4 separate regions of the Homo sapiens genome follow, and regions 2, 3 and 4 are each linked to region 1. The links come from fine-mapping of genetic effects on gene expression. A gene starts in region 1. Each other region holds a variant in brackets. All regions are shown on one strand. Distances are between the middles of the regions.

Region 1 (7,917 bases):
GATTTATGTGAGATTTTATCCCAGTGGAGTATTATAAAAGAACTAAGAATTCTACTAAAAAAAAAATGGCTTTTGCTGTAAGTCATAACTAAGGGTTACATGCAAATTCCATCCTTGACCCCACTGAGGAGTACTAGTTCCCCTGCTATTATATCTCATTGAATCCCTTAGTTTCCTTCAAAGTTTTATTCTGTATAAGTATTTCTCAGTTTCTTACTTTGTAACATTTGGATAATAATAGTATTTGGGGGGAGAAAAGATAATTTTTCTCTCTACCCCTTATGAGTTCTAAGCTGGGATCCCCTATAACAAAAGACAGATTAACAACAACAAAAACCCCACGAGGTTATTAACATGTATATTTCATATATATGTACAGGAGATAGTCAGGGAATTAGTAATTTTCAAAGAGGTGACTTTGAATTCAAACTTAAATATCATCTTCAGCTGAAACAAAGAAAGAGGAGTATGGGGGTAGGGGTGCAGTTATGAGGAAGTGACCAGGTAAAGCATGGCAAACAAAGGTAAAGTTTGTTATGCGTATTTAAGTCAGAGCCCTCTCCATTGATAAGAGTTTCCAGTAATTTAGTGCCATCCTTTTCTTCCTAGAATTCAGAGGAAGACATTTTTACAAATGAAAATTTCCTTTATAGATTTAAATTCACCCTACAAAAAGGTAATTCCACTCTGTTCTCAGAGTTGCTCCTATAGCTGCTGTTTCTCAAACAAATGCTTATACTGAAAAGGCATATTCTGAAGTGGCACATTCTGGTCTTCTACAGTATCTATCTCACAAAGTTAGAGTGTAGAAATGTAAACACATGACTGTACATAAAATGCTTGAAACAATTAATAAATTTTCATCATTATTATTATTGTAGCATTTAATATAATGTTATTGCATATGTCTTTGTGATTATTCATTCAATGTTTAACTCCCCACTACTAGAAAATAAGTTTCCTGGTGCAGGGACAATTAGCCCCTGTGGCACATATCACAATGTTCCCTGCTATAGAGTTCTCGTCTCTATCTGAGCACGCAAAAATAACATGCTTTCTTGCTTTCTTGAAGTTGGGCATGGCCATTGACTTGCCTTAGCCCATAAAATATGAACAGAATTGTCACTTTTAGGTGGAAGATTTAAATACTTAATTCTCCACTTCTCTCTTTCCCTAACTCAGTGGATGTGAAACTGTTAGAGGTGGATGTGAAACTGTTAGAGGTGGAAGTTATTTGAGTCACCGGCAGAGACTGCAGCAACCTCAATTCTTGCCTCGGAAGGAAGAATATAATTGAGGGGCATAAGGCAGAATAAGAGACTGAGGCAAGTTTCAGAGCAAGAGTGGAAGTTAATTAAAAAGCTTTAGAGCAGCAAGAAAGGAAAGCACAGTTGGAAGAGGCCTAAGAGGGCATCTTGGACGTCAAGTGCCCCATTTGACCTTGCACTTAGGGTTTTACATGCTGGTCTACTTCTGGCGTCTTGCATTGCTTTAATGCCCCCAGAAGGTCATATACCAGTTAAACTCCACCATTTTGCATCTTAATGCACATGCTTGAGTTCAGTCACCCACCTCCTGAGATCTTATTGGAAGCTGCTGATTACCAGTTTCATGTGTTCCCTATTTATGGGGAGATGGTCAGTCCCTCGTGCCAGCTGTAACCAATTATTATTTTAGAGAGACAGTTAATAACTGCCTGGCCATCACATGATGGTTACCTGACTTTCCTGGTGGGGTGTGGGGGGAGCCCTCTGCTGCCCCACTCATGCCTATCTAGCTACCTACTGTAACAAAAGCAGGTTTCGATATGGCGGTACAACACTGATCCTGAGGACAGCTACTCTGAGGAGTAACCTGGATCCATAGCAGACTTTGATGAGCAAAAAATAAACCATTATCGCTTAAGCTTGGGAGACTTTGGGCTGGTTTGTTACAGCAGCATAACCTACACTACCCTGGCTATTACAACCATTGTATTTCCATTGCCTAGCATAAGGGCTGGCGTAAAATAAGTGATTAAATATGCTCTGACTAAATTAATTAATAAATTAAAATTTTTAATCAGCAATTAAAATGAACTATTTTAATCAAAGAAATTATTTCAACTCTATCCTGCGTACAATAGAAAAGTTTTGGAAATTTTCACTGATTAGTGTGTAGGGGTCATGATTCTTTGAGTACCAAACCATTATCTTAGATATCAAGGTTAGAGTTGCACATGCTTCGCACTCCAGAAAGACTCCTTCAAGTTTTGCTGAATTTCAATTGAATAAATTTTTTCTGTGAAGTGGTCTTCAAAAACCTATATTTCTGCCATAGAGTCACTTACTTAACCTGCCCTATTTAAAGGGGCTAATGCCTGATAGAATGTCGCTGCATAACTCCATCTGTGTGTGGTCCCTGCATCCATGACAACCAAAACCCAGATGCAGAAATTGTTCCTAATCACATAGATTACCCTAGAAACCGGAAGGGCCTTGAAGTCAAAAGCATTCAGAGAACATGCTGAACAAATTGAATTTGCAGTTTATCTGGCCAGGGAGGATGGAGAGGGGATGGGCACTTGGTCTGAGTATTTTTTGTTTCTCATTCCAACAGAAATTACTAGATTTACCAAAACAAAGAGAAAAAAATATGATCCAAATTTAATCTGGTTGTGGAAGTGTGAGCAAAATCTACAAGTGGTAGTGTGATAGAGTCAGGCAGAGGAATTGACCATAGATAAGGTGCTCAGGACTCCTAGAGTCAGCTTCTGGTATGTGAGAAAGAAGTGAGAACAGAGCCCATGGCATATGAAGAAGATATTACAGAAAAAAGAAAGCTGCCTTCCACGCAAATCATTTCTTTACAAAGGCTTGTTAACTCCTGCAGTGCCCCAGCTCTAGTGACTAGGGGACCAATAGGTTCATTAATAACAGAATTGGGAGAGAACCTGGCATCTGCTTTGATCGAAGTGTGAGAATTAAGCAAGCCTAAAGTGTAGCAAGAGCAGGGAGGGAACTGAATGAAAGGTCAGTTCTAATCTGTAGGCTTTGGAGAAGCTTTGGGCTCTTGAGAGGGAGTAGAGTACAGAGGCTGAGCGGGGTGCCTGGGCAGGCATCTTATCATTACTTGCGAGTTGTGTGAACTCGGGCAAGTTAAACTTCTCTGTGCTTCTACTTTCTCCCCTGAAAACGAGGATATAATCTCCAAGGATTGTTGTGAGAACTAAATGACTTGGTTGATTCCTGAACAGCACGTTGTCCAGTGCCTAGCACATAGCAATCACTCAGGAAACGTCAGCCTTTATTATGGGCCTAGTGCACAAACTATTCTTACCAGTTATGCGACCTTGAGAACATTGTCTTCTCTGTGCCTTCATTTTCTCACCTGTAAAATGGAATAATAATAATTCTTAGAAGGATTCATGAAACAACGCCTAGTAGGGTGTCTGGCTTAGTTATCCCCCCGACAGTATTTTCTTCTAGTAAGAAGCTGAATGCAGCGGCAGACATCCTGGTTCGGGCCCCAGGAAGCTCAGCCGGGTTTAATGTGGATGAGGGTTTAATGATGTACACGCAGAAGTGTTTTGACAAATGAAGAAGGTCCTCATTCTTGGAACATGTGCCGGTTCTCCGAGGGAACTCCTAAAATGGCATAAGGTCACCTTTTTAAAGGCTGTAAGCTCATGTAGGAAAAGCTGAGCTAGATTCCTAAGGGCAGAGATGTGCTCACATTTCTTTGCATCCCTAGTTCCCAGCACAGTGCAAGGCGCTGCAAACATTTGCTGAACCCAGGGTCTCGTGTCTTGACTGTCCAGCAGAGGCCGCTCTGGGCCGGGGCTCTCGGGACCTGAGGGCTGAGAGAAGGAAGGCCAGGGGGTGGCCCAGTCATCGCCGCGGGGCCCGGGTGGGAGGGGTTTGGCAGCGGCAGGCGCGGCGGCGGCGGCGGAGGCGGAGGCGGCCCCGGGCTCGGGCGGCTGGGATGGAGCAGAAGAGCGCGGAGCACCGGAGGGCACGCAGCTGACGGAGCTGCGCTGCGTTCGCCTCGTTTGCCTCGCGCCCTCCACTGGAGCTGTTCGCGCCTCCCGGCTCCCACCGCAGCCCACCCGGCAGAGGAGTCGCTACCAGCGCCCAGTGCGCTCTGTCAGTCCGCAAACTCCTTGCCGCCCGCCCCGGGCTGGGCACCAAATACCAGGCTACCATGGTCTACAAGACTCTCTTCGCTCTTTGCATCTTAACTGCAGGTAATTGGCGCCATCCTCCCGGAAGGGCAGGTCGCGGGGTGGGCCCCAGTAGCTAGCGCGTGGTCGGGGCTGAAGCTAGGAGATCCGGCAGTGAGTCGCCGCGCGCCTCCGGGTGAGTGCGCAGGTGTGTGCGCACTTAGATTTGGGGTGACGTGCACCTTTGGCGGTCCCGAACCGTACTGAGGGAGGGGACGATGGGGTCCTTCCTGCCGCAGCCCGCGCCCGCACAAACTCCAGCTTTGTAGAACAGGTGGCTGTCTTAGCTGCGTGTTCGAACCCAGAGTGGGCAACACGGACTGCGCCTCAAGGCTTCTCTTTCTTCACCAGGGTTTCGGAGCGCACTCTGCCAAAGTACGGGACCAGACTTCTTGTTGCCGTTGGGCCCTGGAAGGGATGAAAAAGCCGGGGAAGTGGGGGTGGGAGGTTCGCATCTGGGAAGGCTTCAGCAGCGGCTGCGCGCCTGGCGGGGCTGGTTTGCTTTCTCGAGTCTTGGCGGTCTCTGATCTCCGGCGTCCCTTCCTAGTTATGCTTAGGATGATGTGGCACTAACAGCAGCGGCCCGGCCTTGGTCAGGCTCGCAATCGTCACTGGGGGTAGCAAGGCTACCTTCTGCCCCAGAACTCCCCAAAAACGTATCCCATAGAAGAAACTATTAACTTGGCTAAACTAGCATCCTCTCCCCTCCCCCTGCACCACCTCTGAAAGGCTTCGTAGGAGCCACTCTCGGGTTTCGGGACCACAGACGGCGACGACCTCTGGCAGCGGGGATGGGGAAGAGGGGAGCCAGATGACTGAGCTCGGCTTGGCGGGGACCGGGGAGAGATTCAGAAAGACGCTTTGAATCTAGAGTTCAGGTACCTATTTTTTCCAGAAAACGTCTCCCGAAAAGGGACAACTGGCTGTGGATATGGTGCTGCTGGGAAAAGTAGCCCGACTGCGCGGCCACTGGCATTTTCAGTTTAAATGTGACCCAAAGTCACATAGCGCAAACCGATTCTACTCGTGCTTTAGTCTGTATATCCTCCCTCTGAGTTCGTCGGGTTCCTACAGTTGTGGACACGAGTCGTCGCAATCCCTTGAAAAGAAGCTAGCGGTTTTCAGGCAGCTCACAGTGGGTAATGCAGTTATAAGGAAAAGTTTCCCAACTTGAAACTATAGCGTATTTTCTCTACTTAGTGAACGTCCGTCTGAGAAAACCTCTTTCTCGCTGGTATCTCGGCACGGTTTGGAGACGCGTCCGCGGACAGTTCCCGAATACTCGCAGGCGGCTTTGGCTGCCCAGCCTCGGGCTGAGATGAGAGAGCCTAGGTCCGGCAGGTGCAATAGGCAGCGGAGCTCCCGGCTGGCTGCGGGTGGTAATTCCTGTAATCCTCAAAGCAGGAGATGCTTACGTAATGACACGGAAGGTACCTTTACTTCTCCTCACTCAAAAATCTTTTCTTGAGGTTCAGAAACCCTTGAGTGAGTCAGTAGAGAGGTTCGTTTGCAAATTTGATTTAGTGGCTTGTCTTGTTTATTTAATCATTTCCTTTTTTAAACAGCTCTGGCAGTTGTCAAAACCGGGATTAACCCTAACAAACAGTGTATTGTAGCTTCCCCACCCCCACCCCAAGAAGCTCTTTTTTCTTTTTTTTTTTTTTCTTTTTTCTTTTATTCAGCGTTACAGTTTAGCTCCGCTATTCCGGGAGGAATATCACCCTTGACCCACCGCTAGAGCGAGGAGACTGGTGGGCCAGGGACCGGCTGAGCACCACTCCTACCCCCACGCACTAATTAGGATCAGAGCCCAGATGGTCACAGCCTTCCAGCTGTGAGGCTCGAGACTCAGGAAGACATACTGCCTCATTTCCCTAGTTATGCTTCGATATGCATATCCCAAGCTGAAAATGATGAAGCTAATGGACACTGCATTCCCCCTGAAGTTTGTGCCTTTGAAGGAATCTCTTTAAGACGTCAGTTTGTTGTTAGAGCTACTTTGCAATAAATCGTCCGAAAAAATAATATAAAAATTGGCATAAATACCTCATGAGATTCTTTGCACCTTAATTTTAAGGTGTTTTCAGAATGTAAAATATCATTTTTAAAGAAAAAAATAGACGTGTTGGTAAAGAAGAAAGGGATGAGGGCTCTTGAAGTGAAAGTGCACACACATGTGTTTTGGGGGCTTATCCCAGAACTCCCCTAGCAAATCTCTAGTTAGTTTCACCAGGCCTTGTGTCTTTTCTGTTTCCTTCTCATTTTCCTCCTCTAGCCATAGGCTTCAACAATATTTCTGTAAAATTCTTAAGGTGATACTTTCTTGAGCCAGGAACAGCATTAGGCAGGGGCCTGTTTTTTGGCTCAACAAATCCTCTCAAAGTATACATAGTATTTCCTCCAGCACATACAATGGACACTTGCAAATATGTGTGCGTTGTCAACAAGCCAACAAGGGTAGATCTCTACATGTATTCACTCGGGTATATATAAATATATTTATATATTTTTAGACAAAGGGTCTAGCTCTGTCACCTAGACTGGAGTGCAATGGCGCGATTCCAGTTCCACTGCAACCTCGGCCTCCCCATCCTCTCATCTCAACCTCCTGAGTAGCTGGGACTACAGGTTCACACCACCATAGGCAGCTAAATTTTTTTATTTTTTGTAGATATGGGGGGTATTCCTATGCTGCCCAGGTTGGTCTTGAACTCCTGAACGTAAGTGATCCTCCCACCTTGGTCATCCAAAGTACTGGGATGACAGATGTGAGCCACTGTGCCCAGCCTCACTTCTATTTCTAAAAGGAGAGAGAAATCTTAGATGGTCTTCAGTTCTCTCAAGGTTGATTATGGTAGAAAACTAGATGTCTATTCTATAAACCATTTTCAAACACTTCTTATGCCAGGATAAGGCATATTGGAGTACTGATTCCAGATTAAAATACAAACCAGAGCCTCCAACCTTTATCCCCAAAACCAAGAAGGGAACGAGAATGGCAGGCCCCTGGTAGCTTCCACATTTATCCCTCTCCTGCTCCCCTCGGGATTCTCTTCCTTTGTTCTTGCCACCATGGTTGTTACATTCAAGTGTTTTTTTTTTGTTTGTTTTTTTGTTTTTTTTTTGAGATGGAGTCTCTCTCTGTCTCCCAGGCTGGAGTGCAGTGGCGCGATCTCAGCTCACTGCAAGCTCCGCCTCCCGGGTTCACGCCATTCTCCTGCCTCAGCCTCCCGAGTAACTGGGACTACAGGCGCCCGCCACCACACCCGTCTAATTTTTTTTGTATTTTTAGTAGAGACGGGGTTTCACCGTGTTAGCTAGGATGGTCTCGATCTCCTGACCTCGTGATCCACCAGCCTCGGACTCCCAAAGTGCTAGGATTACAGGTGTGAGCCACCGCGCCCGGGCACGTTCAAGTTTTTTATGGCCCTATTTATTTAAAAACTCCCTCAGTGAAGTATGAGATATGTTAGAACTTTCAAAGGCATTTTCTGAATACTCAAGAAGGACAAAAAGGAAGGACACTAGGTAAGAGAGGCACAAACCTCATGGTCCTATTTCTACCGCCCTGGGTCTGCTCTGTTTGCCCCTGTCTCCTCTCAGGACCTTCCACCCATTACCCAGGCACCCTGCGCAGACGTATTGGTCCCTTGGTGATTAAGATGTAGATCACCAGAGAGCTAGATTCCCAGTCTGCCACTCAGCTAGGGATCCTA
Region 2 (7,917 bases), 110 kb after region 1:
TTGGAAGCAAGTATATAGCACTGCCAACATCATCATCATCATCAAAGTGGTAGACTGGAAGGAGCCCCAGGAAGACAGTCCTTGATAGATAGCTGTAGAGCGTCAGCCATGTGCCAGGCCACATTAGTGATGTGACACAGTTCTGCCATCACAGTACTTACCATGTTTGGAAAATTTTGTTAGCAGGCCATTACAATTTGCTCTGATGAGTGCTGATTAAAATTTTATTTTAAGCTATATTTTCCCCAGGCGTTCAGAGCACCAGATAAATTAAGTAAATGATTAAATTGAATAAATCATTATTCTTCTTCCCCATACAGCTTCTGTCTCCTAAATGTAGTAAGATATACAGTGGCATAAATATAAGGTTGCTATTTATCTATTATGCTACTTAAGTTTAAGCACTATAAACTTAAGAATGGATACAGTTATTAGACCCTTAAGGGGTTTCAGAAACCCCCTAAGGAAAGCCCCTTTCTGCTTCTCTATTAATTATTTTGGTAAAATGATAACATAAGGAGATTAATCGTTGTTATGAATCTTAAGGCTATGCTAAAACCCCTTCAGCTGTTATTTTGCCAGGTTGTCGGAAAGCCCCATTAATCGTTCATCAAAAATACTTTAATTGACGTGTGTGTGTGCATGTATGTTCCTAAGGATAGGCTTTGCTTTGGTTGGGAACTTACTCTTCTTTCTTCATCCCAGATTTCTAAAAACAATAACATAACAAAAGATCTGTTTTCTGTGGTCTTTTAGCTTGTTTGGCTGGAGCAGCGAGTGACTAAAATCACAACCCATAGGGAGCCATTAGCTTCTGACCTGCAACCATGGGATATGGCCCTGGCCCAGCCAAGTTCTCTGCAAATGCAAGGGGAGAATCTGCTTGAAAAGGCAGCCTCATGATCAGAAAAATAGAATGCTTGGCAAGCTCTGCTAACAATGGGTGGGGACTTTTCACCTTTCTTCCCAGATCCTCATTTCCTCTAAAGGCATTGTAAACTTAAGAGCCATCTGCTTTTCACACTCCCTTTCTCCAGGGACCCATTACCCCTAGTTTTGTCACAATGACCCCTGCCTGGAGAACCACATCTTTTTGTAACCTGAGCCACTTTTGGATGTGACTTATAAAATGAACTGCCCTGAACCCAGGGCCCTTCTTGGTTTATGATCCCACCTTTTAACCAGCAGCAGTGTGGTGTGGAGGGAAGAATGTGAGCTTTGCAGTCAAGTTTAATGCTGACTCTTCTACTTACTATTTAGGCGGCCTTGGGCAAATTATTAACTCCTTGATCCTCAATTTCTTCAATCTGCAAAAAATAGAGTTAATAATATGTATCTTTCAAGGTTGTTTTAAAGACGAAATGAAGTAATGAATGCAGAGTAACTGGAGAGACTAGCATGGTGACTAAGAACATGCACTCTGGGGCAAGTTTTCTTTTTTTGAGTCGAAGTCTCGCTCTGTCACCCAGGCTGGAGTGCAGTGGCGTGATCTCGGCTCACTGCAACCTCCACCTCCCGGGTTCAAGCAATTCTCCTGCCTCAGCCTCCTGAGTAGCTGGGACTACAGGCACACACCACCACACCTGGCTAATTTTTGTATTTTTAGTAGAGACGGGGTTTCACCATGTTGACCAGGGTGGTCTCGCTCTTCTGACCTGGTGATCCGCCCACCTTGGCCTTCCAAAGTGCTGGGATTACAGGCGTGGGCCACTGCGCCCAGCCTGGGGCAAGTTTCTTAATCACTTTGTGCTCAGTTTCTTCATGTAAAATGAGACTATAATAATAATAGTACCTAACTCAAGATTGTTACAAAGATTAAATTATGATACATATAAAGGTTCAGTGCCTGGTATGAGGTGAGGATGATGGAAGGTCAATTACTGTTACTGCTGTAGTTTTTAGAACAGTGCTTAGCAAATAGGGACTCAGTAAACTGGTAACCACCAACACATAGGCTGTGAGGTTGGGAGCACAGTCTCCATCCTACCATTTCCATTCAGTAGGCGTAGGGATTCAAAGGACAGGGGAGAGAAGGAGGGGGAAGATGGCACAGCAGCTCATTTCCTAATTGAATATTGATATGGCGGTCTTCCATGTTCCAGTTTGGCAGTTTCGTTAGTGCTATTCTGAAACGTCTGTGAAGTTGAATCCATGTTACACATTTATAAATGGAAACTATCTCTGAGCAGTCTTTATGCCAGGGCTTGTTTGCAACTTTAAAAGAAAGCAAAGGCCCTGTCTACCTTTTGCAGAACTATCTTTAATTAGTGATGATTGAAGAATGAGATAAGTCTGTTTTGATTTGTTTAAGTTGGCTCAAAACTGTTCAGCCAAGACATAATCTCCCTGCACAGGAGACCGTATCTGCTAAGACCAGTGATGTGGATGTTGCTGTAATTAGGTGTGCTGGTGACCCAGACAGACTACATGGGCTGTTTTCTTCACAAAAATAAATGCAGTCTTGATTTATAGACACAACAGGACCTGTCTTTTAAGACGTCTTGTTAGAAGTCACCTATTTTGCTTTATGTCTTCTAGTGATTGCAGGTTGTACAATTGGATTCCTTCTGGTTGTTAGAGTAGGCCCAGCCAGCCATAAAGGCCAAGATCTTCTAGAATTTGTTATACACAGTTGACTTTTTCAGGTCACCTTTTGGAGTTCTGTAGGTCTTGTTTACTCAATTTTCTCCCTCAGTGGTTCTTAAACTTTAATGTGCATAAGAATCAATGGAAGAGTTTATTAAAAACACAGTTTCCGGCCGGGTGTGGTGGCTCACGCCTGTAATCCCAGCAATTTGGGAGGCTGAGGCGGGCAGATCATGAGGTCAGGAGATCGAGGCCATCCTGGCTAACACAGTGAAACCCCATCTCTACTAAAAATACAAAAAAAAATTAGCTGGCCCTGGTGGCAGGCACCTATAGTCCCAGCTGCTCGGGAGGCTGAGGCAGGAGAATGGCATGAACCTGGGATGTGGAGCTTGCAGTGAGCCAAAATCGCACCACTGCACTTCAGCCTGCGTGACACAGCGAGAAAAAAAAATAAAATAAAATAAATAAACAGTTTCCTGGGTCTCATCCCCATAGATTCAGATTCAGTAGGTCCAGGTGGGGCCCTTGCATTTACATATCTAACTAGCTCAAAGGTGATGCCAGTGCTGCTGGTCCAAGGATCACACTTTGAGTAGCCCTGTTTTACCCGCTTCTAACACTCCAGTAGCCCTGTTTTACCCATTTCTAACACTCCAAACACACTCTCTGCTGTACAGTTTCCCAGATAGATTGCCCTGTTGTTTCATATATGTTTCAGATATGTTGCCCTGTTTCAGATATATTGCCTTTGTAATTTTGAACATGCTGATCCCTCTGTGAGAGGTGTTTGGTTCACCCCTTTCCCAATCTGGCTAATTTCAAGTCGTCCAGCTCAAGAGAGATCTCCTTTGGGAAGCCTTCATCCACCTTTCCATACTGAGTTCCTTGCTGTGCATGCTTCCCTCATACCATGTGCTTCCCTGTACTGCAATCAGTGCATTCTCTACCAGTTTTCTCCACTAGAACAATATCAAGTCCTTGGCAGTACCTGACGTATAGTAGTTGCTTAATGAACATTTATTGGATGAGTTCATGAGTCTGAATAGGAAAGTTTGGGGGTGCAGCAGTAACATTCGTTTACTCCTAATCAAGAAGAACCAGGGTTTGGGGAAGGGGAAGCCATGGGAATCTGTTAAACCACACAGATTTTTACTAGCTA[C/T]GTCGTGACACTGAGCTAGTTTACAAATAAACAGATGTGCCAATGTGTAGACCTTTTCTGTGATGATTGTCTTCCAATAGTAATGCCATCTGGCAGATAATTTTTTAAATAAACAAATATGACCTGCCCCTTCAAAGCAAAGGTAATTATTTCAAGATATGCTTGAAAGTAACAGCTTTTTAAAAGAAACCCAGAGTCTGGAAAAAAAAAGGATTTTAAAAATAAATATTTGGAAATATTCCCATCAGTGAGATTTTTGTTTAAAAGATGGAACTGATAGGATTCCTTAGTTGTGATACTCACTCTGCCACTAACTTGCTGTCGTAACTTTGGGTGAATAAAATAAATTGTAATGATTTCAGTTTTCTTAGCCCCAAAATTGTGGTTCACAATATTAATTTCTTAGTTTTGACAAATGTACCACAATTATGTATCAACATTAGTGGAAGCTGGGTGAAGGGTATACGGGAAATCTTTGTACTATCTTTGCAGCTTTTCTCTAAATCTAAAATCATTCCAACATACAAAGTTTATTTTTTTTAAATTATGACTCAGTAGCTACCACAAAGATATATTGTTTGCTTTTGCCTCAGGGCCTCTGTACTTGCTGCTCCCTCTGTCTACACGGTATCCCTCGGTTATCCACATGGCTCATCCGTCATCTCCTCTATGTGTCTGCTCAAAGATGTCTTAGTGAGACCTTCCTGATCATCATATTCAGAATTACAGTCCCCACCTCCTACTGGGAACTCCTCACCACCCCACCCACTTCTTCTATTTGTTTTCTCCATGGACTTAGTAACATTCACCATGTTATTATTTGTATATTATTTACTGTGTCTCCCCACGTAGAATGTAAGCTCCCTAAGGACAGGGATTTTGATCTGTTCAGTTTATTAAGGTATCAACCAGGTGCTAGAATAGGGCCTGATAGATGGTAAGTTTTCAATGAATACTTAAAGAAGCCAGGCAGGAAATGATAATCAGAAAAAAAGAGGAAACGATGGAAACAATGAAAAGGAGACAGTGACAGCTGCATCAAACAGTTTTGTTAATGGACAACAAGAGTCTAAGGCTTAATTACTCATGGCTAATGAACTGAAAGTTCAGCTGCATTTTTCCAGCACTAAGCCATGTCTTAATCATCTTTGTATCCTTCCATATTTCTTCATATCCTTAGCACATGGTAAGCACTAATGATTGAATGGCAAGACTTGCTTGACTAAAGAGGAGAGGGCTTTGTGGGGCATAGTCATAAATAAAGGTGGAGACTTGTGGAGAACTGGGGCTGACCCTTGTAAAGGACAAGGTATTTCCTAAAATATGTTTTGTTTCAACGCAAGAAAAGGGACACTTCACTCATTTTCAAAGACAATAGAGTTTCATTAAGTATTGATGCTACAGTTATCTTTAAATAGGTACCATTTTGCAGTGTTGGAGAATACCTCAAGCCACAAATGTCACCACATCATTTACCATTTGTCACCAACAAGTGGTCACCAAGTAGGGGCAGGGAGTAGGGAGTGCTGCTTTCTATTAGGGAAGAGCCACTAGAGAAAGAGAGCAATGAGGGAAGAGTTTAAAAGAAATCATTCTTCATTTTTCCCCCTCGGGTTTTAATTTGCTTACTGCACCATATGATACAGTAGACTCACATTGACAATAAGCACAGTGCCATTGATTAACGGGCTGTGAGCACTGTGCTAAGGGCCTTAAAGCCACATCATTGCATGCTAGTCCAGCCATAATGCTCTTTTCCCTTCCTATGTTTAAAGTCAAAACAGTGACTTTGACCATCAATATTCCTTATGGGATGTTTTCATTTTTCCAATTATACTATACAATGAATTTCCATGGGCCATATTAATCCTAGCTGGTATTAGCCAAACCCCATAGACACTCCATATACACTATCTATGCTGCTGCATATAAGCAGTTATCATCAAATATTTATAAAATAACCATTATATCAACAGCAACATGTTAGGTGTTTCAGGTAGTTAGAAGAAAAGTAGGACATAGTCTGCCCTCAAGAAGTTTACCATCTAAGCGGAGCCAAGACACAGCAAAGAGAAAACATGGCTATATTGAATCAGTGCCAGTCTTTATTAAGACTTTTAGTAAATAAAATTGCTTTGACCTTACAATGACATCATTCATCCAGATTGCTGTTCAGGTTGAAATTAGATGAAGCAATGTTGCCTTATAAAGCAAGCAAAGAGACCTTGGTTTCATTAGCAGCACTACCATTAAATAACATTGACAAAGTCACCTAAATTCCTTGGGTCCCACTTTACTTATCTTGAGAATGGGAGTTGCTTTGTTTTTTGGTTTCTGATTGTCTTTTTTTTTTTAACCTCATACACTATGCAAATGCCAATCTGAAAACCTCCCCATTTCCATCCAAAATGTGCCATGATTTAAGAGGTTCTGACCTAGAGAGAAAGTTTTACATGCTCACTAATTATTGTCCTCTTATCACACGTACAAAAAATGTGTTTGTCTTACTCTTACTACAATAGTATCCAATTTGTCCAAACCTGGCTGGAATCCCAGTACACCCAATTTTTCCTGTTTAAGCTCGTTAATGTGGTAAATAAGCCCTATGGGTTCAGTACATTCCCAATTTTGGTTCATCCATATCTCTTGTATATCTTTCCTCACTTATCAGCATTTTACTCAACTCACTGTTTCCTTAATGGGAAGGAAAAAAAAAAAAACAAAGTAAAGGCCAATCTTTTTCCTTTATTTTACTAGTGTTTGTATAGGAGGTGTGTCTTACAGTATAGGAGATTCAGATATAGCATTAACCAAATAGTCTTGCCTAAAATAACCATAGCCAGTAAACCTGATAGCCAGAAGATTTTCAATCCTCTAACCCCCATTCCAACATACTAATAAACTTTAAAAATTCAAATACAATAACAATCATGTAAGAAACTGGTTTTATAACTATGCCTGGGGTATAGTTTCAAGAGTTCCCAGTGGGAGGAGGTTCACTTTTCATTCAATGACATTTTTTACTATTTGGCAGATTCACCATGTGCTTGTATAAGATTTATTATATTAAAAATTTAAAAACAATATTGGCCAACATTCATTGCACATTTGCTATGTGGCAGGCCTTTTATATTCATTACCTTATTTAATCCTCCTAACAACCATAAAGCAATTTTTTTTAAAGTTTCTCCATTTTATAGATGAAGAAACAGGGGGTTAAAAACTTATTCAAGGACATACATTTATTGACCAAACTCACATTTTATGGGAATAAAAATATATGATAGAGATAAAAATTCTGTGAGAAGTTCAATTACCATACAAGGTGAAGCAGGAGTACCCTATCAATAAAGGAGCATGTTTATTGAGTATATTTTGCCAGGCTTGTAGCAGTAAGTTATGCTGAAATTTAGGCAGAGCTCCAGGGCTTTAGTTACCGGATTTTAACTTGTTCATTCTACAGCTTCCATTTCTCAACCATCCTGTTAAAGGATTTGATTGGAACTGGAGGTTTCACATTTGGGGAGAGTGTTGGCCATAGACAGCCCATGACCTTTGTTTACCAAAGCTACCTCCCTTATTTCTATAGATCAAAGAAGCAGTGGTGTTTCTGGGTTTCTATTTATGGTCTCTTTCATTCCCATACCCACAGAAATAAATGTGAGCCTTTAGGGAAAGCAAACTGTGGAACATCTTCAGGTTTTCAGGTACATAGATTAGGTCAGCTGAATCAGCCTTCAGGACATAAATCAGAATTTTGAAGGCTAAGAGTTTGAAACGAGCACAGCAAAGGTCTAGTTCTTTGCAAAAAAAAAAAAAATTGTCTTTTTGCAAATACCTGGCAGATGTAAATAAGCTTCAAAATTGCAATAGCAATTATTTTAGCAACAGATATAAGTATACCAAATGCTTTTTGCACCTTTGAATTGTGTTTTCATTTTGTTTAATTTTCACATCTAGCTGAGATAAAAATTAGTGGGAGTGGTCATTTTTTGTACTGTATCTAGCATACATGATTTCCAGTAGCAAGGTATAATAATTCATATGCTAGCATGAGCCTTAGAGGTAACAAATGCTCATTTTGTGATGCTCTTCTAATCCTGCCATTAGTTTTAGTCTTAAAATGACCATATTCCTTTCCAGGGAGCTCCCGTCTTATGAACAGATCA
Region 3 (7,917 bases), 160 kb after region 1:
CTCTCTCTCTCTTTCTCTCTCTCACTCTCGCTCTTGCTGTCATTCTTGTTTCTGTTTCTCTGAAGAACCCTGGCCAATACAGTCAGTGTCAAGTGAGCTTCTGGAACACAAAGCCTGAGAGAGGAGCTGCCAGGAGGAGGAAATTCATTGCCTGCCTCTCAGGACACACATTCAGGAGTTCTCAGAAAGACTTCTGAAGAGGAAGAGAGAGGAAGAGTCCATAGTAAACACCTGCCCAGGTCAAAGAATGCACAGCCATCTAACAAAAAGGCCCATACAGTTAGAGTTTTTCTATCCCTGTTGCTTCTCCTTCTTATATCACTACACCCCTCATCCCCACCACCACACCAATCCTGGTAAAGACAGAAAGCCACAATTAGCAAGATAAAAACAAGGGGATGGAAGCCTAACTTGAGAAAGGAAAGAGAAGGGTGATACCTCTCCTTCCTTGCCTTCCTGCCTGAAGAAAACCACCAGCCAAGGGAGTGGAAATACTTTAACCTTAAATCAAGGTCAGAGTTTGGATCATTCCTTGGGACTGGATGTCTCAATTTCTGAATTGAAACTGTGATTGTGACTATAACATTATTTTTTATTGTTATTATGTAAAAGTAAACCAGGGCGGGGAAACACTTTCTCCACTGAATATATTTTATACAGACAGTGGGAGATTAAAAAAATAAATAAATGTGCTTTTCTAATACATCCCAAGAGTCCTACCTGTTCAATGTGCCACTTATACAAATATTACTTTTTATGATTGAAAAAAAAGCCAGTATTATATTTTCAGTATTAATTTAATGAATATTTTCATATCACATAAATTCTAGTTTAATATATTATGTTACACTAATAATGTCTTTTATATGAGAATTTCTGTGATAAATTCTTCCAAAAATAAATTTAGTCTCCCCCAAAATTAGACTTTCCAGAAATATATATTTTTAAATTTACAATAAAAATCATAATACCTTTACTCCAACAAATATTTATTGCCAACAAACTACATGCTATCCATATGCTAATAATAACAAACTGGATATTGCTTCTGCCTTGTGAGGCTCACTTGCTGGTAAAGGAAACAGTCGTTACATAAATAAACACAGAATTACAAATTTTAGTAAGCACTTAAGGAAAAGTATTATGTGAGAATAAATACAGAATAATAATTTAGATCAATACATTTGGAAAGTGTCCCTCTGAGGAAGTGACATTTGAGCCTAGATCTGGATGATTTGTAGACGTTAATTAGGTAGAGAGAATCAGAACCTAGGAGAAAAGCTTCCAGATAGACAGAAGAGAGTGCCCCAAGGTCATGATGTGGAAATCCCTGGGTATACACAAGAAAGCATGCTGGATTGTAAACAGTGGAAGGGAGTGTTATGGTAAAGGAGGTTGGAGAATCAGTCAAATCATGCACGCCTTTGTAGGACGCATTGTAAGGTTGGATTTCATCATAAGTTCCCGGAGAAGCCATCAAAGGATTTTGAGAAAAGAAAAGACATCCAGGCATATGTTGTTTTATTGCACTTCACTTTACTGTGTTTCTCAAATATTGCATTTTTTTTTATAAATTGAAGGTTTATGGCAACCCTACATTGAGCAAGTCTATTGGTGCCATTTGTCCAACAACATATGATCAGTTTGTGCCTGTGTCACATTTTGGTAATTCTTGCAATATTTCCAGCTTTTTTCATGATTATTATATCTGCTATAGTGGTCTGTGATCAGTGATCTTTGATGTTACTATCACAATTGTTTTAGGATGTCATGAACCATACCCTTATAAGATAACAAACTTAATCAATAAATATTGTGTGTGTTTTGACTGCTCCACTATCAGCCTTTCCCACATTTTTCTCTCTATTCTCTGGTCTACTTAATCCCTGAGACATAACAATATTGAAATCAGGCCAACCAATAATCCTACAATGATCTCTTAGCATTCAAGTGAAAGAAGAGTCTCATATCTCTCATTTTAAGTCAAACTCTAGAAGTGATTAAGCTTAGTGAAGAAGGCATGTTCAAACCAGAGATAAGCCAAAAGCTAGGCCTCTTGCACCACTTAGCCAAGTTGTGAGTGCAAAGGAAAAGTTCTTGAGGAAATTAAAAGTGCTACTTCAATGGACGTGTAAATGATAAGAAAGCAAAACAGCCTTATTCTGGATATGGAGAAAGTTTTAGTGGTCTAGAGAGAAGATCAAACCAGACAAAACATTCCCTTAGAACTAAGCCTAATCCAGAGCAAGGCTCTAACTCTTTTCAATTCTGTGAAGGCTGAGAGAGGAGAGGAAGCTACAGAAGAAAAGTTGGAAGCTATCAGAAGTTGGTTCATGAGGTTAAAAGAAAGAAGTCATCTCCATAAGTGAAGTACAAGTAAAGCAGCAAGGTGCTGATGTAGAAGCTACAACAAAGGTGCTGATGTAGAACCTACAACAAAAGGTGCTGATGTAGAACCAACAACAGAAGGTGCTGATGTAGAAGCTACAATAAATTATCCACAAGATCTAGCTAAGATCATTGATGAATGTGGCTACACTAAACAACAGATCTTGCAATGTAAATAAAACAGACTGCTACTGGGAGAAGAGGCCATCTAGGGCTTTCATAAAGAGGACAAGTCAATATCTGCCTTCAAAGTTTCAAAGGACAGGCTGACTCTCTTATTAGGGATTAATTCAGCTTGTGTCTTTACATTGAAGCCAATGCTCACTTACCATTTTGAAAATTCTAAGGCCCTTAAGAATGATGCTCTTAATAAATCTACCCTGTCTGTGCTCTTCAAATGGAACAACAAAGCCTAGATGGCAGCACATCTGCCTATAGCATGGTTTATTGAACATTATGACCACTCTTGAGACCTACTGCTTAGAAAAAAAAAATTCTTTTTTGAAATATCACTGCTCATCGACAATTCACCTGATCACTCAAGAGCTCTGACAGAGATGTACAAGGAGGTTATTGTTGATTGTCTGCTTGCTAACACAACATCCATTCTGTAGCTTATGGATCAAGGGGTAATTTCTAATTTCAAGTCTTCTTGTTTACAAAATATACTTTATAATGCCATAGCTGCAATAGAGAGTGATTTGTCTGATGGACTCGGACAATGTAAATTGAAAACCTTCAGAAAAAAGTTCACCATCTAGATGTCATCCAGAACATTTGTGATTCATGGGAAAAGGTCAAAATATCAACGTTAATAAGGGCTTGAAAGAAATTAATTCCAACTCTCATCAATGAGTTGGAGAGGTTCAAGACTTCAGTAGATGAAGTAACTATAGATATGGGGGAAATAGTAAGAAAACCAGAATAAGAAGTGGAGCCTGAAGGTGGGATTGAATTGCTCCAATCTCATGATCAAACTTTAACAGATGAGGAATTGCTTCTGACAGATGAGCAAAGCAAGTGGTTTTTTGAGATGAAATATACCCCTGGTGAAGATATTGTAGACATTGTTGGAATGACAACAAAGGATTTAGAATATATTTATAACTTTATAAGTAATAAGATTTATAAGTTTATACTTCATTGATAAATCAGAAACAGACTGTAAGAAGATTGACCCCAATTTGAAAAAATTTCTACTGTAAGTAAAATACTGTTCAACAAAATACTAACAATATCACAAAGCTACAGAGAAAGCTTTCATGAAAGGAAGAGTCAATAAATGCAGCAAACTTCGTTGTTATCTTATTTTAAGAAATTGCTATACCCAGTCCAACTTTCATAAGTCACCACCATGATCAGTCAGCAGCCATCAACACTGAGGTAAGATCTTCCACCAGCAAAAAGGTTATGACTTGCTGAAGGCTCAAAAGATTGTTAGCAGTTTTTAGCAAAAAAAAGTTTTTGTTTGTTTGTTTGTTTGTTTTGTTTTGTTTTGATTTTGAGACGGAGTCTGCTCTGTTGCCCAGGCTGGAGTGCAGTGCAGTGGTGTGATCTC[G/A]GCTCACTACAAGCTCTGCCTCCCAGGTTCACGCCATTCTGCTGCCTCGGCCTCGCAAGTAGTAGCTGGGACTACAGGTGCCCACCATCACGCCCGGCTAATTTTTTTTTTTTTTTTTTTTTTTTTTTTTTTTTTTAGTAGAGACAGGGTTTCACCGTGTTAGCCAGGATGGTCTCGATCTCCTGACCTCGTGATCCTCCTGCCTCAGCCTCCCAAAATGCTGGGATTACAGGTGTGAGCCACCGCACCCAGCCAAAAAAAGGTTTTTAACTAAGGCATGTATGTACATTTTTTAAGACATTATTCTACTGCACACTTAATAGACTATAGGATTGTGCAAACATAATTTTTATATGCACTGGGAAACCAAAAATTCCTGTGAATCACTTTATTGCTTTATTGTAGTGGGCTGGAACTGAACTCATAATATCTCCAAAGTATACCTGTATTTTGATTTAGTCTCACTTTTTTAATTTTAATTTTTAATTTTTTGGGGTACATAGTAGATATATATATATATGGGGTACATGAGATACTTTAATACATGCATGTAATGTGAAATAAGCACATTATGAAGAATGAGGTATCCATCCCCTCAAGCATTTATCCAATGAGTTGCAAACAATCCAATTACACTCTATGTTATTTTAAAATGTACAGTTAATATAGTCACTCTGTTGTGCTATCAAATAGTATATCTTATTCATTCTTTCTATTTATTATGCATTAACCATCCTTACCTCCCTTCAAAACCCCCTACTACCCTTCTTAGCCTTTGGTAACCATCCTTCTACTCTCTATGTCCATGATTTCAATTATTTTGATTTTTAGATCCCACAAATAAGTGAGAACATATGATGTTTGTCTTTCTGTGCCTGACTTATTTCACTTAACATAATGATCTCCAGTTCCATCCATGTTGTTGCAAATGACAGGATCTCATTCCTTTTATAGCGGAATAACACTCCATTGTGTATATGCCACATTTTCTTTATCCATTCTTCTGTTGATGGGCACTTAGGTTGCTTTCAAATCTTAGCCATTGTGAACAGTGCTGCAACAAACATGGGAGTGCAGATATCTCTTCATTATACTTATTTCCTTTTTATGGGGTATATACCCAGCAGTTAGATTGCTGGATCATATGGTAACTGTATTATTAGTTTTTTGAGGAACCTCCAAACTGTTCTCCATAGTGGTTGCACTTATTTACATGCTCACAAACAGCGTACAAGGGTTCCCTTTTCTCCACATACCCTCCAGCATTTGTTATTGCCCATCTTTTGGTGAGAAGCCTTTTTAACTAGGGCGAGATGATATCTTACTGTAGTTTTGATTTGCATTTCTTGGATGATCAATAATTTTGAGCACCTTTTCATATGCCTGTTTGCCATTTGTATATCTTCTTTTGAGAATTGTCTACTCAAATCTTTAGCCCATTTTTTTTTATCAGATCATTGGATTTTTTTGCCTGTAGAGTTGTTTGAGCTCCTTATATATTCTAGTTATTAATCCCTTGTCAGCTGGATAGTTTGCAAACATATTCCCCCATCCTGTTAGTTGTCTCTTCACTTAATTTATTGTATCCTTTGCTGTGCAGAAGCTTTTTAACTTGATGTGATCCCATTGGTTACTTTTTGCATTCATTGCCTGTGTTTGTATGGTATTGCTCAAGAAATTTTTGCCCAGACCAATGTCCTGGAGATTTTCTCAAATGTTTTCTCACAGTAGCTTCATGATTTGAGATCTTATATGTAAGCCTTTAACCCATTTTGATTTGACTTTTGTATATGGCAAGAGATAGGGGTCTAGTTTCATTCTTCTGCATATGTATATTCAGTTTTCCCCACACCATTTATTAAAGAGACTGTCTTTTTCCCAGTGTATGTTCTTGGCAACTTTGTGGAAAATGAGTTCACTGTAGATGTGTGGATTTTTTTGAGTTTTCTGTTCTGTTCCATTGCTCTATGTGTCTGTTTTTATGCCAGTACCATGCTGTTTTGGTTACTACAACTCTGTGGTATAATTTGAAGTCAGGTAATGGTGATTTTTTCACTTTTGTTCTTTTTGCTTAGGATAGCTTTGGCTATTCTGGGTCTTTTGTGGTTTCATATAAATTTTAGAATTATTTTTTCTATTTCTGTGAAGAATGTTATTGGTATTTTGATAGAGATTGCATTGAGTCTATAGTTTGCTATGGGTAGTATGGATATTTTAACAATATGAACTCTTCCTACCCATGAAAATTGAATATTTTCCATTTTTTGGTGTCCTCTTTAATTATTTTCACCACTGTTTTATAGTTTTTATTATAGAGTTCTTTTATTTCTTTGGTTATTTTCCAGATATTTAATTTCATATGTGGCTATTATAAATGGGATTATTTTTTGGTTTCTTTTTCACATTGTTCACTGTTGGCATAAAAATGCTACTTATTTTTGTGTGTTGATTTTGTATCCTGCAACTATATTGAATTTATCAGGTCTAATAGTTTTCTTGTAGCATTTTGAGGGTTTTCCAAATGTAAAATCATATCATCTGGAAACAAGGATAATTTGACTTCTTCCTTTCCCATTTGGGATGTCCTTTGTATCTTTCCCTTGTCTGATTGCTCTAGCTAGGACTTTGAGTAATATGTTGAATAGCAGTGGTGACAGTGAGCATCCTTGTCATGTTCCAGATCTTAGAGGAAAGAGTTTTAGTTTTTCTCTGTTCAGTATGATATGAGCTGTGGATCTGTTGTATGTGGCTTTTAATATATTGAGCTACGTTCCTTCTAATCCCAGTTTGCTTGGGGAGGGGGTTAACATTAAGGGATGTTGATGTTTATCTAATGCTTTTCAGCATCAATTTAAATGATCATATGGTTTTTATCCTTTATTCTGTTAATATAATGTATCACAATGATTGATTTGCGTATGTCTAACCATCCTTGCATCTCAGGGATAAATCCACTTGGTCATGATGAATGATCTTTCTAATGTATTGTCAAATTAGGTTTGCTAGTATTTTTTCTGTTGAGGATTTTTTTTTATTATATTTTAAGTTCTAGGATACATGTGCAAAACATGCAGTTTCGTTACATAGGTATACATGTGCCATGGTGGTTTGCCGCACCCATCAACCTGTCACCCACATTAGGTATTTCTCCTAATTTTATCCCTCCCCTAGCCTGCCACCCCCCACCCGCCCCAGTGTGTGATGTTCCCCTCCCTATGTCCATGTGTTCTCATTATTCAACTCCCACCAATGAGTGAGAACATGTGGTGTTTGTTTTTCTCTTCTTGTGATAGTTTGCTGAGAATGATGGTTTACAGCTTCATCCATGTGGGACATGAACTAATCTTTTTTATGGCTGCATAGTATTCCATGGTGTATATGTACCACATTTTCTTTATCCAGTCTATCATTGATGGGCATTTGGGTTGCTTCCAAGTCTTTGCTATTGTGAATAGTGCCTCAATAAACATACATGTGCATGTGTCTTTATAGTAGAATGATTTATAATCCTTTGGGTATATACCCAATAATGGGATTGCTGGGTCAAATGGTAATTCTAGTTCTAGATCCCTGAGGAATTGCCACACTGTCTTCCACAATGGTTGAACTAATTTACACTCTCACCAACAGTATAAAAGCATTCCTATTTCATCACATCCTCTCCAGCATCTGTTGTTTCCTGACGTTTTAATGATCACCATTCTAACTGGCGTGAGATGGCATCTCATTGTGGTTTTGATTTGCATTTCTCTAATGACCAATGATGATGAGCATTTTTTCATATGTCTGTTGGCTGCATAAATGTCTTCTTTTGAGAAGTGTCTGTTCATACCCTTGCCCACTTTTTGATGGGGTTGTTTGTTTTTTTCTTGTAAATTTGTTTAAGTTCCTTGTAGATTCTGGATATTAGCCCTTTGTCAGATGGATAGATTGCAAAAATATTCTCCCATTCTCTAGGTTGCCTGTTTACT
Region 4 (7,917 bases), 410 kb after region 1:
TATAAATCATTCTACTATAAAGACACATGCACACATATGTTTATTGTGGCACTATTCACAATAGCAAAGACTTTGAACCAACCCAAATGCCCATCAATGATAGACCAGATTAAGAAAATGTGGCACATATACACCATGGAATACTATGCAGCCATAAAAAAGACTGAGTTCATGTCCTTTGTAGGGAGATGGATGAAGCTTGAAACCATCATTCTCAGCAAACTAACACAGGAACAGAAAACCAAACACTGCATGTTCTCACTCATAAGTGGGAGTTGAACAATGAGAACATATGGACACAGGGTTAGGAACATCACACACTGGGGCCTGTTGGGAGGTGGGGGGTAAGGGGAGGGATAGCATTAGGCAAAATACCTAATATAGATGACATGTTGATGGGTGCAGCAAACCACCATGGCATATGTATACCTATGTAACAAACCTGCACGTTCTGCATATGTATCCCAGAATTTAAAGTACAATTTTAAAAAAAAGGAATACAGAAAAAAAAAATGAACATAACTTTCAAAGTCAGGGCACAAAACTTTGCTAGTCATCCCTGCTATTCAACTCTCTTCCACACAGCCTTTAAGGTTCAGTCCAAGCTCTGCAACTTCATACAAATCTGCTATTCCTCCAGAACACAGTGGCCATCCTGAGCACTCTGAGTTTGAACCCGCAGCTCAAGATTTTATTTTCTCTAGTTGTATAAGATAAAGGAGGAACAAAGTCAGATGTGTTGGGAGAAGCAGGAGAAAAAAGATACTAAATCTTGGCAAGGACTTTGTTTTGCATATTACATAGGCAACCTCATTTAATTCTCACCACAATCCTATAAATAAGAATTATTCTTCACCATTTCCAAGATGAGAAAACGGAGGTCCATGCTATACTAAGAAACTTGCCTGCAGTCTAGAGCCAGTAAACATTAAAGGCAGAATTTGAATCCAGGTCTTTACCACAAAATATGCTCTGTCCTCTACATCGCAGAATTAGTTTTATCTCCTCTCCTCCTTCACCCCCAGGAACAGATCATACAAGGAAACAGATAAGAAAGATGAAGGATATGAAAATGATAGCATGTTTCAAAAGTAAATATTTATATCAGGCATCTATCAGGTGCAAAGCAGAACCCTCAGAGGTTTGGAGAAGAGAAAGGGAAGTCTACATCATGGAGGGAAAGAAAGCTGTTTATACAGCATTGGGCACTGTAGCAGATATGCTCTTGACAAAGTGAATACAACACACAGGGGGGATATTCAGAACAGAGGAGACCAGTAAGCATCTGCAGGCTGTCTGCTGGTTATACCACATCTGCCAGGTTTGGTGTAGTTTTAGTCACTAGGGCACGTGTGCTGTGGAATCCACAAGAAGAGCATGAGGATATTCATGCTCAGGAGGTCATGGTTAAATCTTCAAACAGCTAAACAGCTATCTTTTGTAAACAAGAAACTTGAAAATGTTCTGTGCAACTCTAAAAAACAAAACTGGAACTAAAGAAGGAATGCTACAGGGAGGTCCATTTCTGCCTCCTATAGGACAGAATTCTGACAGTTCATTAGAATGAATCACCTCTGGACATTGGCAGCTGTCATTGTTGACATGATTATGCAGCTTGGAAAGCCATTTATCAAGTATATGGTAAAAGAGATTCATGTATGGGGAATTAAGATTGGCCTGAAGACCTCTGAGATCCCACTCAGCTCTATAATTCTATGACTCAACTTGCATTTAATAGAGCTTTATCTCACTGCAGAGAAATTTGTATTAATTTCCTATTGCCACCATAACAAATCACCACAAACTTAGTGGCTTAAAACAACAGAAATGTATTATCTTACAATTCTGTAGGTTAGAAGTCTGCTCAAAATTCTGCAGGTTAGGTCTCATTGGGCTAAAATCAAAGTGTTGGCAGGACTGCATTCATTTCTCAGGCTCTAGAGGAGAATCCATCCCTTGCGTTTTCCAGCTTCTTGACTCATGGCCCCCTTCCTCTATCTTCAAAGCCAGCAATGGTGGGTCGAGTCCTTCTCACCTCACATTATTCTGCCCTCCTCTCTCCTTTTCTTCCACTTTTACGGACCCTTGTGATTACAGTGGACCCATTCAGACTATCTAGGACAGTCTCTCTAAGTTAAAGTCAACTATTTGGCAATCGGAATTCCATCTGCAACCTTAATTCCCCTTTGCCATGCAACATAACATACTCACAGTTTCCAGGAATCAGATGTGGATACCTTTGGGAGGGAACTTCATTCTGCCTACCAAAATGAGGTTCTGAAAAATGCCACTAGAACATTCTCCACTTCAGGAGGTCATGAGAGTTAATAACACAGGCTGTGACGCTGCCTTTCCTAAAGTTCACAGGGTATGGGATAAGGAATTGGCAAGAGTACACCAGGCCTCCATGGGTTATGTGGAACTCAGCTTCTACCTAACACAAACCAACTAAATAATATAGTAGAAAATATTTTTCTGTTGGGTAAGTTTTACCTCTTATCATAGATGCCAAATGACCTAACTGAACATTGACTCCTAAACATATATTGAGACCAAAGGCTTTAGGTAGCTAAGCAAATGAATCAACTAAAATTATCTAACAAATTATCTAACCAAGGTACCAGGCTAGTAAGAAAGGAAAAATTCGAAACACTAAAAAGCAGCTCTTCTGTCTTTTCTTTCACAACCAGAGGTCACCACCATATACTGGAAACTAGACGCAACTTTGATGCACCACTCTCACCCATAGCAGACACTCCTACTCCTTCACTCTTCCCATAGCCTGTGACAGCCTTCAGGAGTCTTCTTCAGTCTATGCCCCAGGTAGGCACTAGAAATTATCAGAGTTGGCACATGAGAAAAAAACCTATTTGCCGTCTCCTCAGGAAAGACTCTGTGTTCCGTGGGTTGGGATTTAAGACTGATGTTTTAGTAATTATTGTGTACAAGACAATGAACTAGAAATGTGCCTTCAGAAACAAAATGTACACTTATAATTTCAGCTGCCTAAGGATTACAGTCTAATAGCTCTTACTGCTATTTTGTTTCTTGTTAATACAATTCCCTATCTTATACCATACTTTGTATTTATCTAAAGTTTTATCCTTATACTACCCTGGGATCTCTTGTCATTTGAATCACAATGGAATTCCTAGTTGAAGCAGAAAAAGGAATTAATTTGCTACCATCCTCAAAAATCCAGGCATAGATTTGGCTTTGGCCCTTCCCAGGGTCTCAGATGATGCTACTGGACCAGCACTGCCCTCATCCCCACTAACCCCTCTGCCTTCCTCTGATGGCTTCATTCTCCTACAGGCTATTGCCCGTGGAGATGAGATGGCTCCAAGAAGCTCCAGGCTTACCTCTCATCTCATCAGTAGGAAGGAAAATGCTCTTTCTCTGTATCCCTCTACAAAGAACCTGAACAGAATTTACTTTTAGTGACTTTTCATTGTCCTAGCTGGGGTCATGTGCTCATCTGCAAACCAATGACTATGACAAGAGAAATGCAAGCCTCTAATTAGCCAGCCCTCAGTCAACTGTTCACTCCTGGAGCAGGGATTACATTCAGTGTCATTTGAACCACATGAAACAAAACAAAGAAAGAAATGGATCCCCCAGGGAAAATTGGTATACTGTTACCAAAGGGAAAACAGATACTGGGTAGACAGAAACATTAAACAATTACTATACTTAGGTGACAATTTGAGTCAGAATATTAGCTGCTCTCTGGTCCAGTATTAGCTAACAGCAAGACAGAGAAGAGAGCGTCATAATTTGAACAGGAATAGGGATTGGGGAGACTACAAAGCCTGGAGTACAGCCCAAGGAAGTGGGACATAAATGGGACACCACAGTACAAGGACCATGGGCAATTTGCATGATATCTTGGGAAGAAAGTCCGGAAGATATTCAACAGCCACTGAAAACGGAGGACTCACCAAATTTACAAGCCTCATTTATTTTGCCTAACCCTGAAATAACTTCTAAGAAAATAAAAAATAAAGGAAGGCAAAAGGACTTGGGATCAGGCAACCCAACTTTTAGCCCCACCACTTACCAGTGAATGGTGTTGTCTTGGGCATGTCACTTATCATCTCAAAGCCACAGTTTGTTCTTCTATGAAATGAAACTTATGGTTAATTTCTAACTCACAAAGAATTAAATGTTGTCAT[G/A]TGTGTAAGAATCATTTCTAAATGTGCTGCAACAAACCCTTCTATTCATATGCCTGTTGCAATGAGGCTTGGTGGATCCTCTCATCTACTTACCCTCCTTTTGAATCTGATTCTGAGTTGGCTCTGTGAGTTGCTTTGTCCAAAAGAATGAGGTAGAAGTGACAAGTGCCTTCTAAGGTTAGCCTATAAGAGCCCATGCAGCTTCCAGTTTTGCATTTTTGGAAAACTCCTTCTTAGAAGCCCATCACCACTCCATGAAGAAGCTAAAGCTAGAATATAGAATAAGGAGAAGGCACATACAGAGAGACTCTGGAAAATGAGAAGACATCTCTTTTATATATATATGCTTTAAGTTCTAGGGCACATGTGCACAATGTGCAGGTTTCTTATATAGGTATACATGTGCCATGGTGGTTTGCTGCACCCATCAACTCATCATTTACATTAGGTATTTCTCCTAACCCTATCCCTCCCCCAGCCCTCCACCCCCCAACAGGCTCTGGCATGTGATGTTCCCCTCCCTGTGTCCATGTCTTATTGTTCAACTCCCACTTATGAGTGAGAACATGCAGTGTTTGGTTTTCTGTCCTTGTGATATTTTGCTGAGAATGATGGTTTCCAGCTTCATCCATGTCCCTGCAAAGGACATGAACTCATCCTTTTCTATGGCTGCATAGTATTCCATAGTGTATATGTGCCACATTTTCTTTATCCTGTCTATCATTGATGGACATTTGCATTGGTTCCAAGTCTTTGCTATTACGAATAGTGTCACAATAAACATGAGTGTGCATGTGTCTTTATAGCAGCATGATTTATAATCCTTTGGGTATATACCCAGCAATGAGATGGCTGGGTCAAATGGTATTTCTGGTTCTAGATCCTTGAGGAATCACCACACTGTCTTCCACAATGGTTAAACTAATTTACACTCCCACCAACAGTGTAAAAGCATTCCTATTTCTCCATATCCTCTCCAGCATCTATTGTTTCCTGACTTTTTAATGATCGCCATTCTAACTGGCGTGAGATGGTATCTCACTGTGGTTTTGATTTGCATTTCTCTGATGACCAGTGATGATGAGCATTTTTTCATATGTCTGTTGGCTGCATAAATGTGAGAAGACATCTTGAATATGCCAATCCTAGTTGAGCTCTCAGCTAAATGTAGCTGCACAAGTGTTCTCAGCTGCATCACATCATGGAGCAAAAGAACAGCCCAGCTGACCCTGGTTAACCCACAGAATCATGAGAAATAATAAAGCATTGTTTTAATACACCAAATTTTAGGAAGGTTTACAACACAGAACTGGTGTCTGAGACAATGAGTATACATAGAGTTTCTATGGTTCTTGTCATCTTTTTTCTGCAGTTTTCTCAAAAGGAATGTTATTACACTTTAGGAAGAACAATTCCTCATTTGTGAGAAAGCCTCATGTTTTGCAGTACACTCAGCATCACTGGTCTTGCCTGCTATATTCCAGTAGTGCTCTGCAGTCACTGAAAGAATCAAAGACATCACCCCCACAGGCCTAAAATTCCCTGTTGTTAGCGAAACCCAAACAGAGCAATTACTTCTGGGAAGGTGAGTACTTCAGAGGTTAGATTCACTAATTATAAGGCAGGAATTACATTCTATCTGTATGTCCTGATTATTATGATTTGAAATACCTCTTTCCCTGGAACTTCATGCTGCCTTCAAAGAAGTGGGCTGTATTAGGCCATACCTAAAGTGAGTTTACAATGTCCATAAAATTATATCATGCTATTTGATAGTAAGCAATGCAACCAGATGTGATAAATATGGGTGGATTTGATCTTGAAAGGTCTCCAAAGAAAACTATCATCTACCACTAAGTTCAATTTATGTCAAAAACGTTAACATTCATCCTCTAATTTGCCTCATTTATTTAGTGCTTTTGGAATCTGGAGAAAATAAATAAATGAACATTATTGTTGGCTGCATGATCATCTTTGTCCTTTCCCTTGGTGGATCCTTGTAATGGAAGCGCCTGCATTTAACAGATCGACAACAAAAGACAGGGTATTATGAAATGAAACTTCTCTAAGATAAATATTACTTTCCAGGAAGCAGAGGACTTGAGAAGTGACCTGCTAAAAGAGAGTTGTCATTAATCATAAAGATCTCTGTTCTTTGTAAACACCAGGAAGGACTACAACCTTATCTGTTAATTTCACCACAGTGGGATTTCAAAGTTTATGTTTTTGTTTTTGTTTTTTTTTCCTGGAGAGTTTCACATTTCCAAGGTCAACTTCAAGGGCAAGCTTTTATTCAGTCAGTCTGAAGCATCAGCACTCCCATTTTAATAAGATATAAAATATTCTTTCTACCCAATTCTTTTTTTTTTTTTTTTTTTGAGATGGAGTCTCTGTCTGTCACCCAGGCTGGAGTGCAGTGGCGTGATCTCAGCTCACTGCAACCTCTGCCTCCTAGGTTCAAGAGATTCTCCTGCCTCAGCCTCCCAAGTAGCTGGAACTACGGGTGTGTGCCACCAAGCCCGGCTAATTTTTTGTATTTTTAGTAGAGACGGGGTTTCACCGTGTTAGCCAGGATGGTCTCAATCTCCTGACCTCGAGATCTGCCCACGTCGGCCTCCCAAAGTGCTGGGATCACAGGCGTGAGCCACCTGCGCCAGGTCTCTAACCCATTCTTTTACCCACACCCACTCCCTCTTTCTTATTTCTACCAGTTTGCAAACTCAGGTTCCTGCTGAATTATTAGTTAAAATGGGAATGTGAATTTATTTGAGCATGTCTCTGTCAGTTTGGCTCTGAGCAAAAGGTGCTAGTTTTCTGGACTGGCACACAGTATCCAAAGATGACATTGGGTGCTAAATTAGAATTTTGAACTAAGCTTCCAAAAATAACAAAATTATACTGTAAGTCCTTACATTTTCCTTACTCCAGATTGTACAGATTCCCTAGTGATCTTAGGGAAGTTAAAGAAAGAAGCAATTAGATCATTAGAAAAAATATAAAGTATTATACAAGAATATAATGGCATCTGTCTTTCTGACAGAACTATTTTTACATGGTACTACATATACAGGTTGTACAAGTGAAAGAAGCAACAGGTAGGAGTCCTCAATTTTGAAAACTAAATGCTATTTTAAGGAAAAAGAGAGAAAGAGGGAGGAGAAAAACTAAATACCCAATCTGCTAAAATTTAATCTTAAAATATATTCCTTAGAAAAGTACATTTGTTAGAATTCAAGTAGGTGACAATATGTTACTTTTTATCTTGGTCTGGTTTAGAAAAATCCTCTCCTTCATAAATAAATAGTACGTTTATACTGCTAGTATATTTTAATAGTTAACATTTGAAGTGCATATAACATTTATTTTAATAAAATTTGGTATTTTGGAAACAAGAAAAGAAAAACGTTCTTCACTATGTGATAGCCTATACTTCAAATAAAGTATCTACAGTGGTATTTCCTTCTTCAAAGAAATAAACTTTTCTGTCCACTGTATAATCTAAGGAACATTACAGCAAATGTGCAGCTTAAACTGATAAAATATATGTCTCTTAACCTGCCAAAAGTTGGGAAAAAAGTAAACTTAAATTAACAAATCACGGTTCTTAGATTCGCCCATGTCTCCATAGCTGTCAAGTGATGGAGAGAGACTAAAGTCCAAGTCTATCTTAATCCGAAGCCCAAGTTCTCTCCACGCTACCACACTGTCTCTTCATTTTTTCTTTATGAGTTTTCATGTGAGT

Alleles and levels. Positions count from the first base shown, and alleles are read on the strand shown. Sizes are in standard deviations (SD) of each study's normalised expression. Not every link is listed here.
For the expression in tibial artery of the gene that starts at base 3,971 in region 1, G is the high allele of the variant in region 4 and A is the other (small effect, 0.19 SD a copy in GTEx).

The links. PIP is the estimated chance that this variant, and not a neighbour inherited with it, causes the effect. A credible set is the group of variants that fine-mapping cannot tell apart.
Region 2: its variant is the best candidate, but not a certain one, in a credible set for the expression of PARM1 in lung (TOPMed, PIP 0.78).
Region 3: its variant is the best candidate, but not a certain one, in a credible set for the expression of PARM1 in whole blood (TOPMed, PIP 0.51).
Region 4: its variant is the best candidate, but not a certain one, in a credible set for the expression of PARM1 in tibial artery (GTEx, PIP 0.59).

Annotation. Positions count from the first base shown.
Region 1 is chr4:74,929,146-74,937,062 of GRCh38, forward strand. PARM1 (prostate androgen-regulated mucin-like protein 1) reads left to right here and starts at 3,971. Exons shown (of 4, transcript NM_015393.4): 1 at 3,971-4,225. The coding sequence starts at 4,183. RefSeq lists silencers at 3,805-4,114, 4,695-4,744 and an enhancer at 4,855-4,904.
Region 2 is chr4:75,036,493-75,044,409 of GRCh38, forward strand. All of the region lies in intron 3 of PARM1 (prostate androgen-regulated mucin-like protein 1), which reads left to right. It overlaps LOC107986289 (a long non-coding RNA gene), which reads right to left. Exons shown (of 3, transcript XR_001741728.2): 3 at 563-1,307. Among named protein-coding and RNA genes, the nearest start is that of LINC02562, 44 kb to the right of the region's middle. The variant C/T (reference allele first, on the strand shown) is at 3,749.
Region 3 is chr4:75,088,048-75,095,964 of GRCh38, forward strand. No RefSeq gene overlaps it. Among named protein-coding and RNA genes, the nearest start is that of LINC02562, 7.3 kb to the left of the region's middle. The variant G/A (reference allele first, on the strand shown) is at 3,947.
Region 4 is chr4:75,337,194-75,345,110 of GRCh38, forward strand. No RefSeq gene overlaps it. Among named protein-coding and RNA genes, the nearest start is that of LINC02483, 13 kb to the right of the region's middle. The variant G/A (reference allele first, on the strand shown) is at 4,176.